Linked DNA regions of Homo sapiens: region 2 is linked to region 1. The links come from fine-mapping of genetic effects on gene expression. Tissue or cell type: whole blood. Region 1 holds a variant in brackets; the other region holds the start of a gene. All regions are shown on one strand. Distances are between the middles of the regions.

Region 1 (8,090 bases):
TGCCATGAAGGCAGGCGTGTGTTCTGTTTGCTGGTGTGACTGGCACACACCAGGGGCTCAGTAAATCCTTACTGAGTGGTGAAAGAAATGACTGAATGAAGAGAATAGCTCCAACGTGGGTACTACTCAGGAGCTGGGCAGCATCCCACACAGTAGATGCTGATGACGGCAAAGATCCCACTTTAAGGGGCCAGGCTGTCCTTGTCAGACTGAACCTATTCTTCACACCACTGTTTGTTTGTTTGTTTTGAGACAGGGTCTTGCTCTGTCACCCAGGCTGGAGTGCAGTGGCACAATCACAGCTCACTGTAGCCTCAACCTCCTGGGCTCAACCAATCCTTCCGCTTCAGCCTCCCGAACAGCTGGGACAACAGGTGTGTGTCACCATGCCCAGCTGATTTTTTCTCTTTTTTGTAGAGATAGGGTTTTGCCATGTTGCCTAGGCTGATCTTGAACTCCTGGGCTCAAGCAATCCGCCCACCTTGGCCTTCCAAAGTGCTAGGATTATAGGCCTGAGTCACCGCGCCCAGCCTGTTCAAATCTGTGAGCACATAGCATGTGGTGGCTGGTGCTGCTGTACCTTGGAGGCCTCCGTGAGGATGAGCTTCGAGTCCTTCACCAGGCACTGCAGGGGCACAGTCACGTCAATCACCTTCACCTTCTCGCTCTTCCTGCTCTTGTCATTGACAAACTTCCCGTACCAGGCATTGACGATGATGAGGCCTAAGGACAGACTCCGAGTAGAGGAAGGCCTCCTCCAGGCACCTCCTTGTGTGGCTTAGAGACCCCCAGCGCCCACCCTGGACCAAGAGAGGACACATGTTCTCACCCATTCTGGACTCTTCTGCCTCAATTATCCTTCGGACAGATTCCTGCATCAGCCGGACCTGCCAGAGAACAAGGATGACACAGTCAGGGCCCTGCCAGGCCTGTTCCACCTCTGGTGAGAGGGCCACAGGCAGGCAGTCTTGTCCACGTCAACATACTTGCTCAGGGCCTGGAAAGGAAGGGAGTGGGCACCCTGACAGCTCTGCTACCCGAGTGGCTCACTCTGAAACTCCTAGACCTAGGGCAGGCAGCTCTGGGTCAGAAGGTGAGAAGCACCTGAAACGGCATGACCCTCCGGTGGCCACCGGTGGGAGCTCCCTTTCTAGGGATCATTAATGCGTGGGTGGGATTTGTTGACCCAATAAAAAAACAATGCGTTGTCAGCTTTAAAAATAAAGAGATTTCACAGGAGAAGCTGGAATCCCAGCTCCTCTTGAGAAAGGACCTGTGTTCTCCTGTGGTGCCATTCTGCTGGGCATAGCTGTGCCGCCCCCTCAGACAGGCATGTGCTCGCCAGGCCGCGCACACGGCCCATGGCCACCTGGCAGTATGCTCGCCACATACCCAGGAAGCCTGCTCCCTCCTGCTCAGTAAAAGGCAGAACACTCAGAGGGAAGAAAAAGAGGCCAATACTCACCACTTTAAAAAAGCCCTTGTTAGGCCTTTGGAGGGTAATTATCTTCAGGGCAGGGACTGCAGAGCCCAGTGTCGCATCCCACAATAAAGACTAAGTGGAGAGCCAAGTTGTTGGAGAAGAGAAGTCTGACCTCTAAGGCCCTGAGACCAACATGTGGGGTGTGGAGTGTGTCCCCTACAGCCCTCGCTTGGGAACGGTGGGGCAGCACTCACAGCGGACTCCGCCTCTTGCTTCTTCTGCAGCACATCGGTGGCGGCGCTTTCCCTCTGCTTCTCCAATTCCCTTACGCGAGAGGAACACAAGCCCCACGTTAGCGCGGCGCTGCCCAGCTTCCAGCCAACACAGCCCCTCCCGTGCTGGACCCGAGCCCAGCAAACAGTCTGTGATCTTACTGGAGTTCAGTTGTAGAACTTTAAAAAATATTCCCACGACAGTCTCAGGCAAGTCTGTTAGTCACAGGCTGGCAGCTTTCATTTTATCCTTAGATGGCTCTGCCCCACCTCCTCACCAAGCTGACGGGACACCGACTGTCAGTCTCTTTGGAAAGAAGACCCCACCACAGGAGAATTTCAGGAGATCCCACCAACCTTGTGGGATTATTATTTTTTTAATTTTAATTTTAAGATAGAGATGGGGGTCTCACTATATTGCCCAGGCTAGTCTCGAACTCCTGGGCTCAAGTGATCCTACTGTCTCGGCCTCCCGAAGTGCTAGGGTTACAGGCGTGAGTTGTTAAATAACACTTTTGGTAGGAACAACTAATACCACTTTAGACACACAGATCCGCTTTCCTGTAACAAAGTATGGGCCTTGGGGTCAGCATATGCCTGTCCTCCCTTCTGAGAGAAGGCTGGGCCAGCACATGTCTTGTTCTAAGCCTCAAGCCTCCTAGGGAATTAGGATTCTGAGTCCAAAGGCCAGACGGGCCCAGAAGAGGAGATTCATTCCTTTATCTGAGATTCTCTAAGTGCAATGCTTTACTAAATGAGATATTATAAAGTAACAAATCTATACCAGCTCTCAGTTTTCTGTAGAGATGCTTGCACTAATAATTTAGGTTTCACGGCATGCCCCAATGGATTATCTAAGAAACTGCAAAAACGTTGTGTTTCTGTGACTTTCAAGACTCTAGTTAACGCAGGCCCCTCACATACGGATCCAGAACGCATTCCTCTTAAACTCAGCGCTGGGAAAGGAGAAAGGAAAACTTCTTCTTTCTTGAGGCCATGGTTTAGAGGATCAACACTTTTTTTTTTTTTTTTTTTGAGACCGAGTCTTGCTCTGTCACCCAGGCTGGAGTGCAATGGCGCAATCTAGGCTCACTGCAACATCCACCTCCCAGGTTCAAGCAATTCTCCTGTCTCAGCCTCCCAGGTAGCTGGGATTACAGGCACGTGCCACCACGCCCGGCTAATTTTTCTATTTTTTTAGTAGAGACAGGGTTTCACCATGTTGGCCAGACTGGTCCTGAACGCCTCACCTCGGGTAATCCACCTGCCTCAGCCTTCCAAAGTGCTGGGAATACAGGCGTGAGCCACCACGCCCAGCCGAGGCCCAACACTTCTATAAACTCCAGTCCTTTCTGAGAGTAAGATTTACAAACGAAGAGATAACAGCAGTCCAACTACGGACAATGAGGAGAAATAGTTAACATTTACCAATCGTGACCCAGACATCAGCCTAAGTGCTTTACATGCATTACTTAATTCAGGTTTCCTCATCACCCGACGCAGGAGGCTCTGTTATCCTCTCCATTTTAAGGGTGAGGAAACTGAGGCACAGGGCTGGCTAGTGACATGCCCATGA[C/T]GTGTCAACTCACTTCTCTTTCTGAGCCCTGAGGTATGGTTTGATGATCAGACGGTGCATGGCAAAGTAGACCACTAGAGGCCCCACGGTGGCATAGAACATGGCGCTGGGCAGAAGCTGGTCCGTCAAGTGAATAGGGAAGAAGTATGTCTGACTGGCCCTGTTGAGCCTGGGGAAAAATACAAAAAAAAAAAAAAAAAAGCCAAGATGAATCAGGTTTTCCAGGGAAGGGCAATGGGGTGTCAGGCACAGGAAGAGAACTTGTGCTGCGTGCAGCTGCGAGTTAAAGGAGCCTGCAGTCTGCTCCTTTCACAGTCCACCACCTTCTGGCCTCCCGTTCCAAAGTCTGGCTGATGGATCTGACACTGTGACAGAAGAAAGATCCCAGTGTCTGCTGACCTCAAGCCAAAGCAACAAGAGGAACACTTCACGGGGTCAACGTCCCCTACAGGTGCATTCAGTCATAGGCTGGAGAGGACAGGAATGGGCTCCTCCAGATGTCACTGGAGAGTCACATCTCAGTTCTTAACTGAGGTTTCCAAAGAAGTTAGTGAAGACTTCAAAAGTTAGTCAGTTAAGGAGGTTCTGCTTCCAGTGGTGGCTGAGTAAAGTAGCTCCTATTGGACCAATGTGTAAACTCTGGACCACATATAAAAAATTTGGCCAGGCGTGGTGGCTCACGCCTGTAATCCCAGTACTTTGGGAGGCTGAGGTGGGCGAATCACCTGAGGTCAGGAATTTGAGACCAGCCTGGCCAACATGGTGAAACTTCATCTCTACCAAAAATACAAAAATTAGCCGGGCGTGGTGGTACCTGTCTGTAGTCCCAGCTACTCGGGAGGCTGAGTGAGGCGGGAGAACGCTTCAACCCAGGAGGCAGATTGTACCACAGCACTCCAGCCTGGTCAACAAGAGGAAAAGGACTGAGGATGCATGGACAGAATCTCAGAAACCCGTGGAAGAGTGTTAAGTTTAATATATTGGTAATTAGAGCCCCAGTGAGGAAAAGGAAATTTACAGATGCAAGAAGTTTAGGAAACCCCAAGCATCATAAATACAACAACAGCCTTATCTATGTACATCACAAACTGCTGAAAAGCCAGAAAAAGAAAACATGCTGAGTAGCCACTGACAATACCTGATCACACTCTTCCAGAATAAAAGCTCTTCCAGAATAAAAGCAATTCCAGAATTGATAAAGAACACTCAAAACTTGGCCAGGCTCAGTGGCTCACGCCTGTAATCCTAGCATTTTGGGAGGCTGAGGCAGGAGGATCGCTTGAGGTCAGGAGTTTGAGACCAGCCTGGCCAACATGGTGAAACCCTGTCTCTACTTAAAATACAAAAATTAGCTGGGTGTGGTGGTGGGCGCCTGTAATCCCAGCTACTCAGGAGGCTGAGGTAGGAGAATTGCTTGAACCTGGGAGGTGGAGGTTGCAGTGAGCCAAATGCACTCCAGTCTGGGGTGCAAGAGCGAAACTCCGTCTCCAAAAAAAAAAAAAATATATATATATATATACACACACACACACACACACACACACAAACAGAGACAGGTTAAATGTGAATGGGTAAAAAAAATAAATAGTAAGCATAAGAAGACTAAAAAAGCTATATAGTAACAGATAAGGTAGACTTCAAGACAAAAATTTTTTTTTTTTTTTGAAGTGACAGGGTCTCACTCTGTCATCTAGGCTGAGGGGCACAATCACAGCTCACTACCACCTTGAGCTCCTGGGCTCAAGTGATCTTCCTGTCTTGGCCTCCCAAAGTGTGCGCGCCACTGTACTGAGCCTTCAAATATTATCTGAGGAGAGATGGCTGACGCCAGCTCTAATCTAGGTAAGTGATTTGGCTTTGTTTCCAAAACTGAGCTGTGATCCACTTTGATTCACTCACTGAGTTCCTCTCAAGTACCACGATGGGTTTTAGGTTCTAGAAGTGCGGGTGAGAATAAAATGGACCAAGTCCAAGAGCTTATGTCTGATGAGGAGTGCAGGAGATGGCCCTTCAGATGGAGACTGGCTCGTTGGAGATTGAACATGGCAAACATGGTGGGGGGGATCACCTGGGGCAAGGGGAAGGGCTACTATGTTATACAAGGTGAATTAGGGGACATTTGAGCAGACAGCAGATACTTACAGGGAGTGAAGGAAATGGCCACGTATTTATCTGCAGACTGAGAAATAGCAAAGGCCACCTCATAAGCAGGAGGGGGCCTGGTGTGTGCCAGGAATAGCTCCAGGGGGTCAGGATGGCTGGGGTTGGGGTAGAGAGGAGTACTACATCACGGAGGGCATTGTAGGCTCCAAAGTCTCTGAAGGGCTTTGGCCTCCGACTGGAATTGAGGGAACCTCTGAGGTTTTAGGCAGAAGACAGACGTGAACTGCCTTCAATTTTAAAAAGGACTCTCCTACGGAAAGCAGACACACAAGGAGGGAGACAGGTTCCGTGGGGAGGGTGCTGTGTAACTAAGACAAAGATGCTGGCCGCAGTGAGGTTGAGAAATGGCGAGACTGGGGATACAATTTTGGAGTACATGTTCAGGAGATGATTTTGAGATATGTATGATTTGGAGTGTGGGAGAGAAAGAGATCGAGGCTGACTCCAAGGTTTTTGGACAGAGCAAGTAGAAGGCCAGAGCTCTCATTTACTGAGATAGGAAAGGAGGCTGGGCGCTGTGGCTCACACCTGTAATCCTAACACTTTAGGAGGCCGAAGCGGGAGAACTACTTGAAGCCAGGAGTTCAAAACCAACCTGGGCAACCAAGTGAGACCCTGTCTCTATAAAAATAAAATAAAAAAAGAGAGAGAGATGGGAAAGACTTCGGGCAGAGCAGGTTCTGAAGGTTCTTCGTTTCTGGGGGCACAGGGAGGGATCGAGTTCTGTTTGGATACGTGACATCTGAGATGCTGTTAGGTATCCAAGTAGAGATTAGGAAGAGAAAGCTGGACAAATATATGAGCTGGAGATTGAGGGGGTGGTCCAAGCTGGCACTTGCAACGTGAGTCCTCAGGGCATGAGAGCCATGAGGCTGGACATGACTGCTTGGGAGTGAGTCGAGAGAGAAGGGCTGTGCCCTGCAGTGGTGCCTCCATTTAGGGGTTTGGGAGACAGCAGCCATCTGGTACGGAAAGCCAGAGCAGGGCGTGGTATCCTGGAAACTCAGGGCAGAGAGGCTGTAAGGGCAGGAGGGAACGGCCACCGCGACAGCAGGTGCAGAGACCAAATGAGATGAAGAAGAATCACCCTCTGATCTGCCACAGGAGGGAGGGTGCCCCACTGATGAGGTGAGAAAGGCTGATTCTGGAGAGGGCTGGTTTTGCTGGAGAGGCCTGACTGGAGCACGTTTAGAAAGAAAGAAGACGGATGCAAGCGAAAACAGACATTTTTTTTTTTTTTTTTGAGTGGAGTCTCGCTCTGATGCCCAGGCTGGAGTGCAGTGGCGCCATCTCGACTCACTGCAAGCTCTGCCTCCCGGGTTCACACCATTCTCCTGCCTCAGCCTCCCAAGTAGCAGAGACTACAGGCGCCCGCCACCACGCCCGGTTAATTTTTTGTATTTTTAGTAGAGACGGGGTTTCACCGTGTTAGCCAGGATGGTCTCAATCTCCTGACCTCGTGATCTGCCCGCCTTGGCCTCCCAAAGTGCTGGGATTACAGGTGTGAGCCACAGTGCCCGGCCAAAACCAGACAACTCTTTTGAGGAACTAAGGAGAGGACAGTGACTAGACTCAGGTGGAGCAAGGGTATGTGTGCCAATGGAAACCCCTGGTGAGAGGGATGAACCGATATGGCAGCTGCTACTGGAGATGCTGTGCCCGGGGGATAGCTGCCAGGCCAGTGACTCCAGGAGGACTGGGCTGCTAGGATGCATCCTGTGACATCAGGCGAGGCTGCTGGAGCTCAGACGTACACCTCACTCACTCGGTGTTGGAACTATGCACTGCTTGACATTTGCTTACTCAGCAAAGACACAAGCAACTGTATTTTTTTTTTGAGATGGAGTCTCACTCTGTCACCCGGGCTGGAGTGCAATGGAGCGATCCTGGCTCACTGCAAGCTCCGCCTCCTGGGTTCAAGCGATTCTCCTGCCTCAGCCTCCCGAGTACCTGGGACTACAGGCACCCGCCACCACCCCTGGCTAATTTTTTGTATTTTTAGTAGAGATGGGGTTTCACCATGTTAGCCAGGATGGTCTCGATCTCCTGACCTCGTGATCCACGGCACCTGGCTGAATTTTTTTTTTTATATTTTTTGAGACGGAGTCTCACTGTCCTCCAGGCTGGAGTGCAGTGGCACGATCTCCATCTCAGCTCACTGCAACCTCCGCCTTCGGGTTCAAGCAATTCTCCTGCCTCGGCCTCCCAAATAGCTGGGATTATAGGCGTGTGCCACCACGTCTGGCTAATTTTTGTATTTTCAGTAGAGATGGGGTTTCACCACGTTGGCCAGGCTGGTCTCAAACTCCTGACCTCAGGCGATCCGGCCGCCTTGGCCTCCTAAAGTGCTGGGATTACAGGCATAAGCCACTGCACCTAGCCAAGCAACTGTGTCTTTAAGAACAAAATTACAATGCAAAGGCTATTTCAGCCTTAACTTGGGTAAAGCCTGGTTGAGTGAAGGTGACAGGCATTCCTTGACCCGAAAGGCCTAAGTTCAACTTACTTGACTTTGAGAGAAACACCCTGTGGAACTCCAACGCTGACAGCTGCACCCAAAACGCTGTGCCTGGAGATCTTCCTCTCAGCTCCGTACTCCACCACCGTCCCAAAGAAGCCTGCTCTGCAGGGAGAGAACGCGGTCTGTGCCTGTGCC
Region 2 (8,090 bases), 27 kb before region 1:
AGTTACTTACCGGGAAACCATGGTATTCTTAGTATTTTTAACTTGTTGCAACCTGTGCTAACGTTGGCTTTTTTCCTCCTCTCCTAAGTAACTATAATCATCTGAGAATTAGTATTCAGCAGTTGGTATAATTAGTTTGTTTTTTGTTTTTAGCAGAAAACAAAGAATCATAGACTCCAAGGATCTGGCTACTGTGGTGAATGTTCTTGAACTAATCAAGGAATTTCAGATTCGCCCCCTGCAGCCCAGGAGTAGTACAATACACCTATGAAAAAAACGGGAGATACTGAACAAACCTAATCCTGTCACAGAAAATCAACTGTGTTTTTTGAGACGGAGTCTGACTCTGTCGCCAGGCTGCAGTGCAGTGGCATGATCTCCGCTCACTGCAACCTCTGCCTTCCGGGTTCACGCCATTCTCCTGCCTCAGCCTCCGGAGTAGCTGGGACTACAGATGCGTGCCACCACACCCAGATAATTTTTGTATTTTTAGTACAGACAGGGTTTCAACATGTTGGACAGGATGGTCTTGATCTCTTGACCTCGTGATTCGCCCGCCTCGGCCTCCCAAAGTGCTGGGATTACAGGCGTGAGAAAATCAACTTTATTACTCCACAGCTACATATTATGAGATCGTTTGGGTCAACTACAAGTGGTATAGTCCTTTTTCTGAATTTAGGGAAAGGATGCTAAACATTAATGTCTAAATTTCCTCCAAAGGGCTGTATTTCTAAGGGAAATGGAAAGACAAAAGAGGTCCTTTTTCTTGAAGTTTTCTCTTTCACTGGAGTAGCAGGAAGGTACAGGTCATATCTATGTACTAAAAATTACTGTTTACTAAAAACATATTCAATAAATATCTGGGTGCGGTGGCTTATGCCTGTAATCCCAGCACTTTGGGAGGCTGAGACAGGCAGATCACATGAGGCCAAGAGTTCAAGACCAGCCTGTCCAACATGGTGAAACCCCGTCTCTACTAAAAATACAAAAAATTAGCCGGGTGTTGTGGCGCATGCCTGTAATCCCAGCTCTCAGGAGGCTGAGGCAGGAGAATCGCTTGAACCCGGGAGATAGAGGTTGTGGTGAACCAGGATCACACCACTGTACTCCAGCAGGGGCAACAAGAGTGAAACTGTCTCAAAAAAGAAAGAAGAATAAACTCTCAAATTGGAAATGAAGGACCTACTCAGAATAATGGACTTGTTGACAAAACTGAGCTTAGAATTCACAGGCCTATATTGGACTACTTGGTTACATCAAGGAAGGAAAATCCCAAACATGGATTGAGTCAGGGGACAGATTTTCAGACTCAAGTGATAACTTTTGCTCAGAGTGGGTATTCACTCCAGGCAGGCAAGATAGCTCAGGACTGTAAACTCTACAATTTGGGAGGCCTGGGTGGGAGGATCCCTTGAGCCCAGGAGTTCCAGAACAGCCTTGGCAACATACGGAGACCCTGTCTTAAAAAAAAAAAAATTAGGCCTGGCATGGTGGCTCACGCCTGTTAATCCCAGCACTTTGGGGGAGGCTGAGGCGGGTGGCCATTCTTTCTTTTTTTGAGATGGAGTTTCGCTCTTGTTGCCCAGGCTGGAGTGCAATGGCGTGATCTCGGCTCACTGCAACCTCCACCTCCCTGACCCATGTCGGTCAGGCTGGTCTCGAACTCCTGACCTCAGGTGATCTGCCTGCCTCGGCCTCCCAAAGTGCTAGGATTACAGGTGTGAGCCACCGTGCCTGGCCCGATAATTTCTTAATATGTGTGTGTGTGGGAAAGGATTTAATGTTTATTATGTGACACATTTACCACAGGGGATAATAATGAGGTGTAAAAAAAAAAATCCCTCTTCTTTCACTTGGGTTTCACCTCTAATAATTATTCTTGGCCAGGCGCGGTGGCTCACGCCTGTAATCCCTGCACTTTGGGAGGCCTAGGTGTGCGGATCACGAGGTCAAGAGATCAAGACCATCTGGCCAACATGGTGAAACCCTGTCTGTACTAAAAATACAAAAACTAGCTGGGCGTGGTGGTGGGCGCTGGTAGTCCAGGCTACTTGGGAGGCTGAGGCAGGAGAATCGCTTGAACCCGGGAGGTGGAGGTTGCAGTGAGCTGAGATGGCGCCACTGTACTCCAGCCTGGCGACAGAGGGAGATTCTGTCTCCAAAAAAAAAAAGAATTATTCTTTTTGGTATTTACATTTTTAAACTACCAACGGGATCAACACCTTAGCAGTGTTTCTTATTCTGGCAAAACGAGTTGCTCCTTGTGAATATGACCTTGGGCAATACAGGCTAACTTCGGGGCATCTGCTTTGGTCACAGTAACCAGGTAACATTCCAAATCTGGCTAAATCATCTGTGCAATTGTATAAGAAGTTGTTAATCAAGTCTCGATGGGCCAAGTCCAATGTCTCTGTTTTAATCAGTAATTTCATGTTTTATCTTGTAAAGTACCTCAATTTATCACCTTTGGGAAGCCCTCCAATGGGCTACAATATTGCAGAAATAATAAAACAACAACAACAACAACAACAGTAAGCTACCATTTATTTAGCCAGGCACTACGCTAAAATTTAACAGCTTAGGAAACTGAGGCTCAGAGAAGTATTTTTTTTTTTTTTTTTGAGACAGAGTCTCGCTCTGTCGCCCAGGCTGGAGTGCAGTGGCACGATCTCGGCTCACTGCAAGCTCCGCCTCCCGGGTTCAAGCAATTCTCCCGCCTCAGCCTCCCGAGTAGCTGGGATTACAGGTGTCCGCCACCACGCCCATCTAATTTTTGTATTTTTAGTAAAGACGGGGTTTCACCATGTTGGTCAGGCTGGTTTCGAACTCCTGACCTCGTGATCCACCCGCCTCGGCCTCCCAAAGTGCTGGGAATACAGGCGCGAGCCACCGCGCCCGGCCGCTCAGAGAAGTATTTCTAAGATTAACACCATCTCCTAACTATTAAATATCTTCATCAGAATGATCATAACCCTTGAAATAGCAACAGCCAGCTTGATGGAGCATTCGGCGCCTGTCAAATATCTTACTAGTATCTCCAAGAGTTCGTTTTCTAATTTGAATTTTCAATTTTGTGTCACTCCCCTTTAACTTCTTCGAAGCTACCAAACAGGTTACTGAATCATCTGCGTTTTGTACTTACCTTTTTCCCCCACTTTCGAATATTAAAAATGTTCCCGTCAGACCGCCTTTTGGTCACCGCATAGGGGCAGTCCCCACCGTGTCCGGCCAGCCTTCCACACGTACAGCTGTCGGATACTCTGCGGTCCAGCGTTTACACACTGCCCATCCCAGTTAAACACCACTAAACAAGTACCAGTCGATGCCAGCGCCAAACACCGCGTCTCCGCCTCGCCCTGCGGGCCGGAGGATATTCAGGAGAGTGGGAAAACGGCCGGTCCCAAGGTTAGGCTTAGGCGGCAACAGAAAGCAAACTGAACGCACACCTCTTTAGAACACTGACAACGCTGGCCCGGTGTTTTTAATGCACGAACCCGGCCACCTCGAGTGAATCCCGCAGATGCCTAGAGAAGAGCCCGGTCCAGTCCCGGCCCCGCGGGCCCGGAGCAGGGAGCCGCACGAAGCCCGCAGCCGCGAAAACAACTTCGCTGAGCCCGGCCTGGAGCGGGGGCCGGGCGGCGACTCCGCCCTCAGCGGGGAGCGGGGAGCGGGGAGCGATGCCCGGGGCGGCCGCGACGTCAGCGTCCCCGCCCCTGCCGCCCCTACTCCCGGCCAGGCCTCGGGGACCCCCGCCCCACAAAGGGGCGCGAACCCCAAGTAGGAGACGAGGAAGGGTAGGTGCCAGCCGCCGCCGCCCTTCGCAACCCGGGCCGTCAGCCCCGCCCCCACCGCCGCAGCGACTCCCGCCCCCGCGCCCGCCGAGACCAAGGCGCTACCGCTCACACTGCCCCTCCCCCCGCGGCCGAGCCGGCGCGGGCCCCCGCACCTCCCCCGCTCGCGCGGCCTCGAGTCCAGAAGACCCGCCTCCACACACCGGGGCCGCCGCCGCGGAGCCTCATGGGGGTTGGAGTCCCCAAGGTTTCCTTTGTGCGCAGTATTGGCGGGGCCTTGGACTACCACTCCCACAAGGCACCGCGCCCGCCTCCCGCGCCACGCCCCCTCGCCGCTGGCTTCCAGTCGCCACCCAGACTACATTTCCCGACAGGCCTCCCGGCTCTCCCGCCCTCCCTCCCGAGACACGAGCCGAACTGGGCGTCAGGTCGGGGAGCCGGTCGGGTTCCCGCTCACCGCCGCCGCCGCCGCCCCCTGCAGCCACTCTCCCGCCTCTACCGCCGCGGGAGCTGCATCGTCCACTCCGGTCGGCGGTGGAACCGCCAGTCCGGGGTCACAGAGCTTGAGAAGCGACGCGCTGAGCCCCCCATCACCTCCAGCCCGGGCGACCCCTCCCGGGTCCGCCCTCGCCCTGCGCAGCCGCCCGAGCCCCCAGCCCCGGGCGGCCCCGCTCCAGCATCCCAGCTCCTGCACTCTCGCAGCCGCCGCCGCCCCCCGCCCGGAACATGGACTCTGACTCTTGCGCCGCCGCCTTCCACCCGGAGGTGAGTGAAGCTGTGCGTCCGAATCGCCCCCGACCACCCCCTCCGCGATCCTGCCGTCCTCAGGCAGCCAGACCCCCGGTCGCCCGGAGCGCCGCCCTCCCCTTCCCCCGCTTTCCCCTCGTCGGCCCCCCCGGGAGCCCAACCCCCGCCCCCTGCTCGGGCCCGCGCTCGGTCCTCTCCGCCGGGCCTCGCCTCCGCGTCCCCTCCGCGGACCTCCGCGTCCTCCCCGCGCCCTTTCCCCAGGGCCGTTGCGCCTATTTCTCTCCCCCGGGCCGCCCCTCTCCGGCCTCGCGTCGACCTGGGACCTGTCGGCGCCCCCAGCCCCTCCCCGCCGGCCTGCTTACTCTTTCCCCGCCCCCGGGGACGCGGTCCGAGCCGCCGCCCGCCCCTGGCTCCGGTTGCTCTCGAGGAGTTTTAGGCCCCCCTCGGACCGGGGTCGGCTCCCGAGGCCCCCGGCTGCTCCCCCGATCCCCCGGGCCCGGTGGCCCGCGCCCCGCCCCCTGACTCCGCGCGGGGCCCAGTCGGCCCCCGCCCCCTACGGCTCTCGGGGGCCGCGTCCTCCGGGGGCCCCACCCGCTCTGGGGACCCGAGTCCTGCCCCCACCCACCGCCCCCCGGCGCGCTGGCCTCTCTCTTCGGGCCCCCGCCCCCCGCCCGCGGGCTTTGCTGGCTCCGCCCCGGCTCACTCCCCCTCCTTCCGGGGATCGGCCCTCGGGGCTCCCGGCCTCCCCCCCGCGCGGTCCCCTCCCCCCAGCCGAGGCTCGTTGGGGTCGGGGGTGCGGGTCCGGCGACCGCGGGCGGGTGGGGGAGGGGAGGCGGCGCCGGAGCCCGCCGGTCTCGCTGCCGCCCCCGGGGGTTCGCAGGGCCTCCCCAGGCCTGGGACCCCGGAATCCTGCCTGGCGCACCCCCCTCACACATACTCGCGGGATGGGCCCCGCACCTTCGGGGGCCGAGTGTCGCGGGGGGCGGCTGCCGCGGGAGGGCGGGTGGGGGCCGCTCCGCCATCTGCTTTCCGAGGAGGCGGCCGGGGGGGCGGGCGGCGTGGGCCGTGTGGGGGCGGCGTGGAACCCCCAGTCCCCGCGCCGGTGCCTCCCGCGCGCCCCCGGCCCGAGGCCGTCGCCGCCCTCCACTTGGCATTCGGGTTTTTGACCCACTTCTGCTGGTTCCCCGCCGAAAGAAAAGTTCTTCGCGGGAGTTGGAGGCCCGGGTGGCGGCCCGCGGTTCCCGTGGCTGGGCAGGCTCGCCAGTGCGGGGAGCGCGGTCAACGCGGGCCTTCGCCTCCGCTCCGTGGGCGGCCCTGGGGTCCAAGGGGGTGGGAGAGGAGAAGGTTTGCTTGAACCAGGTTGAGAAAATAATTTTCTAAGGGCACCGACTTTCTCGAAAGAAAACCCGCGGGCCGCACGCCTGCTCCTCGCGGCGGGAGGGGCGGCCCGAGACCCCTGCCCCCCATTTCCCCACCGGCTCTCCCCCAGCAGAGTGGCGGCCGGGTAACAGCACCTCGGGAAGGATGGGGGTGGGTCGGACAAGGCACTGAAAGGAACCTCAGGGAACGTGCCGGGCGAATAAACAGCAATACGGCACACTTGTTTTGCTTAGGAGCAAATAAGAGCTCCATCTCTCCGTGCTTCTCTCAGGAGAAAATATCTTTTTGTGATGGGTGTTTCTAGATGGAATGGGGCTGGGACCCGCGAGCAAAAACCTCCACTATTCCGTTTAAATGTAAGACTAAGCTTCGCAGTAAGGTTCTTGGTTTATTGTGAGTTGAGATAGTTGGGTGCCTGGCATCCCGACTGGCTGGGACAGTGGAGGGGACCCTCTGAGCACGAGAGAGGGGTCCTCAGGTGGCGCTAGCTTGGCAGGGTCAGCCAGGAGTGAACTCCAGGGTCCAGGTCTCCGAGAGCTCTGGAGAATGAGTGGTTGATTTTTTTTTTTTTTTTTTTTTGAGTTGGAATCTTAGCTCTGTCTACCGGGCTGGAGTGCAGTGGCGCGATCTTGGCTCACTGTAACCTCCGCCTCCGGGTTCACGCGATTCTCCTGCCTCAGCCTCCTGAGTAGTTGGGACTACAGGTGCACGCCACCACGCCCGGCTAATTTTTGTATTTTTAGTAGAGACGGGGTTTCACCATGTTGGTCAGGCTGGTCTCGAACTCCTGACCTCGTGATCCGCCCGCCTCGGCCTCCCAAAGTGCTGGGATTACAGACGAGAGCCACCGCGCCCGGCGAGTGGTTGATTTTTGAAATCACTTAACATACATCAGTTCCAGCTGCTGCTGCAGCAGTTCATACTCAGAATGGAAAATCTGTAGCAAAAAAGTAGTTATTAGAGCTTCGCCTGATAGGCCTGTGGAAACTAATAGATAAAGTCAGAAAATGCCACATGAGCACTAAGAAATAGACTTTTGTAGAAGTTTTTATCTCCCAGCTGATTTCCCAGCATTCTTGGCATAAAGTCTTAATACTCCTCTTTCTGCTCTCTGAAAATAGTGTTATTTCTTGACCTGAACTTACCGTATCTTGTTTGTGGACTGTGTAAATCTAACGGTATTTTTTGAGTGATTGACTACAAAAGTTCCAGCTTACTTCCTTTTGTTTCTGTGATTCCGCCTGGAAGCCTCTCCTTCAAACACATTCCCTTTTCTCTCCCCTTAATAGGAATACTCCCCCAGTTGCAAGAGGCGCAGGACCGTGGAAGACTTCAACAAATTCTGCACCTTTGTCTTGGCCTATGCTGGCTACATCCCTTATCCGAAGGAGGTAATCTTCTGAGTTTCTGAGACCTTTCTTGATGAGTAGTCAAACCCAGTGCCTCCACCGCAAGTTCGTGGGCTTCTGACTGGTCAGAGGGTCAGTAGGTTTGGAAGGGGCTGCTTGTGGTGACCCCAGTCACTAGTCTGGCAGAAATCTGTTTCTTGAGAGTTTGAATTAGCTGGGGAAATGGTTCTAAAACTCTGGTAAAAACTCTGGTAGAAAATGCAGGCTTGTCTAGAAAATGATTTAGTAAACTTTCTTTTTTTTTGGAATGGAAACTTGCTCTGTCGCCCAGGCTGGAGTGCAGTGTCGTAAAACTCCACCCCCGGGTTCAAGGGATTCTCCTGCCTCAACCTCCTCAGTAGTTGGGATGACAGGCGTGCGCCACCACGCTAATTCTTTTTTGTATTTTTGGTAGAGACAGGGTTTTACCTTGTTGGCCAGACTGGTCTCGAACTCCTGACCTCAGGTGATTCACCTGCCTCGGCCTCCCAGAGTGCTGGGATTACAGGCGTGAGCTACCGCCCAGCCGATTTAGTAAACTTTCAGTTTATTTACAAATAAAATATGTGATATTTGCTTGCTCTTTTTGTTTGTTTGTTTGAAATGGAGTCTGGCTCTGTCGCCCAGGCTGGAGTGCCGTGGTGCAATTGTGGCTCACTGCAACCTCTGCCTCCTGGGTTCAAGCGATTCTCCTGTCTCAGCCTCATGAGTAGCTGGGCGCGCCACCACACCCAGCTAGTTTTTTGTATTTTTACTAGAGACGGGGTTTCACCGTGTTGTCGAG

Evidence for each region. PIP is the estimated chance that this variant, and not a neighbour inherited with it, causes the effect.
Region 2: PHF13 starts here. The variant in region 1 is fine-mapped to the expression of PHF13 in whole blood (TOPMed, PIP above 0.99).

Annotation. Positions count from the first base shown.
Region 1 is chr1:6,636,618-6,644,707 of GRCh38, forward strand. It overlaps DNAJC11 (DnaJ heat shock protein family (Hsp40) member C11), which reads right to left. Exons shown (of 16, transcript NM_018198.4): 10 at 7,941-8,057; 11 at 3,285-3,440; 12 at 1,678-1,747; 13 at 830-887; 14 at 581-723. Among named protein-coding and RNA genes, the nearest start is that of THAP3, 16 kb to the left of the region's middle. The variant C/T (reference allele first, on the strand shown) is at 3,272.
Region 2 is chr1:6,609,550-6,617,639 of GRCh38, forward strand. PHF13 (PHD finger protein 13) reads left to right here and starts at 4,182. Exons shown (of 4, transcript NM_153812.3): 1 at 4,182-4,556; 2 at 7,208-7,309. The coding sequence starts at 4,518. It overlaps LOC107984913 (a long non-coding RNA gene), which reads right to left and starts at 3,838. Exons shown (of 2, transcript XR_001737882.3): 1 at 3,143-3,838. RefSeq lists silencers at 3,631-3,680, 3,731-4,510, 4,681-4,770, 4,911-5,370.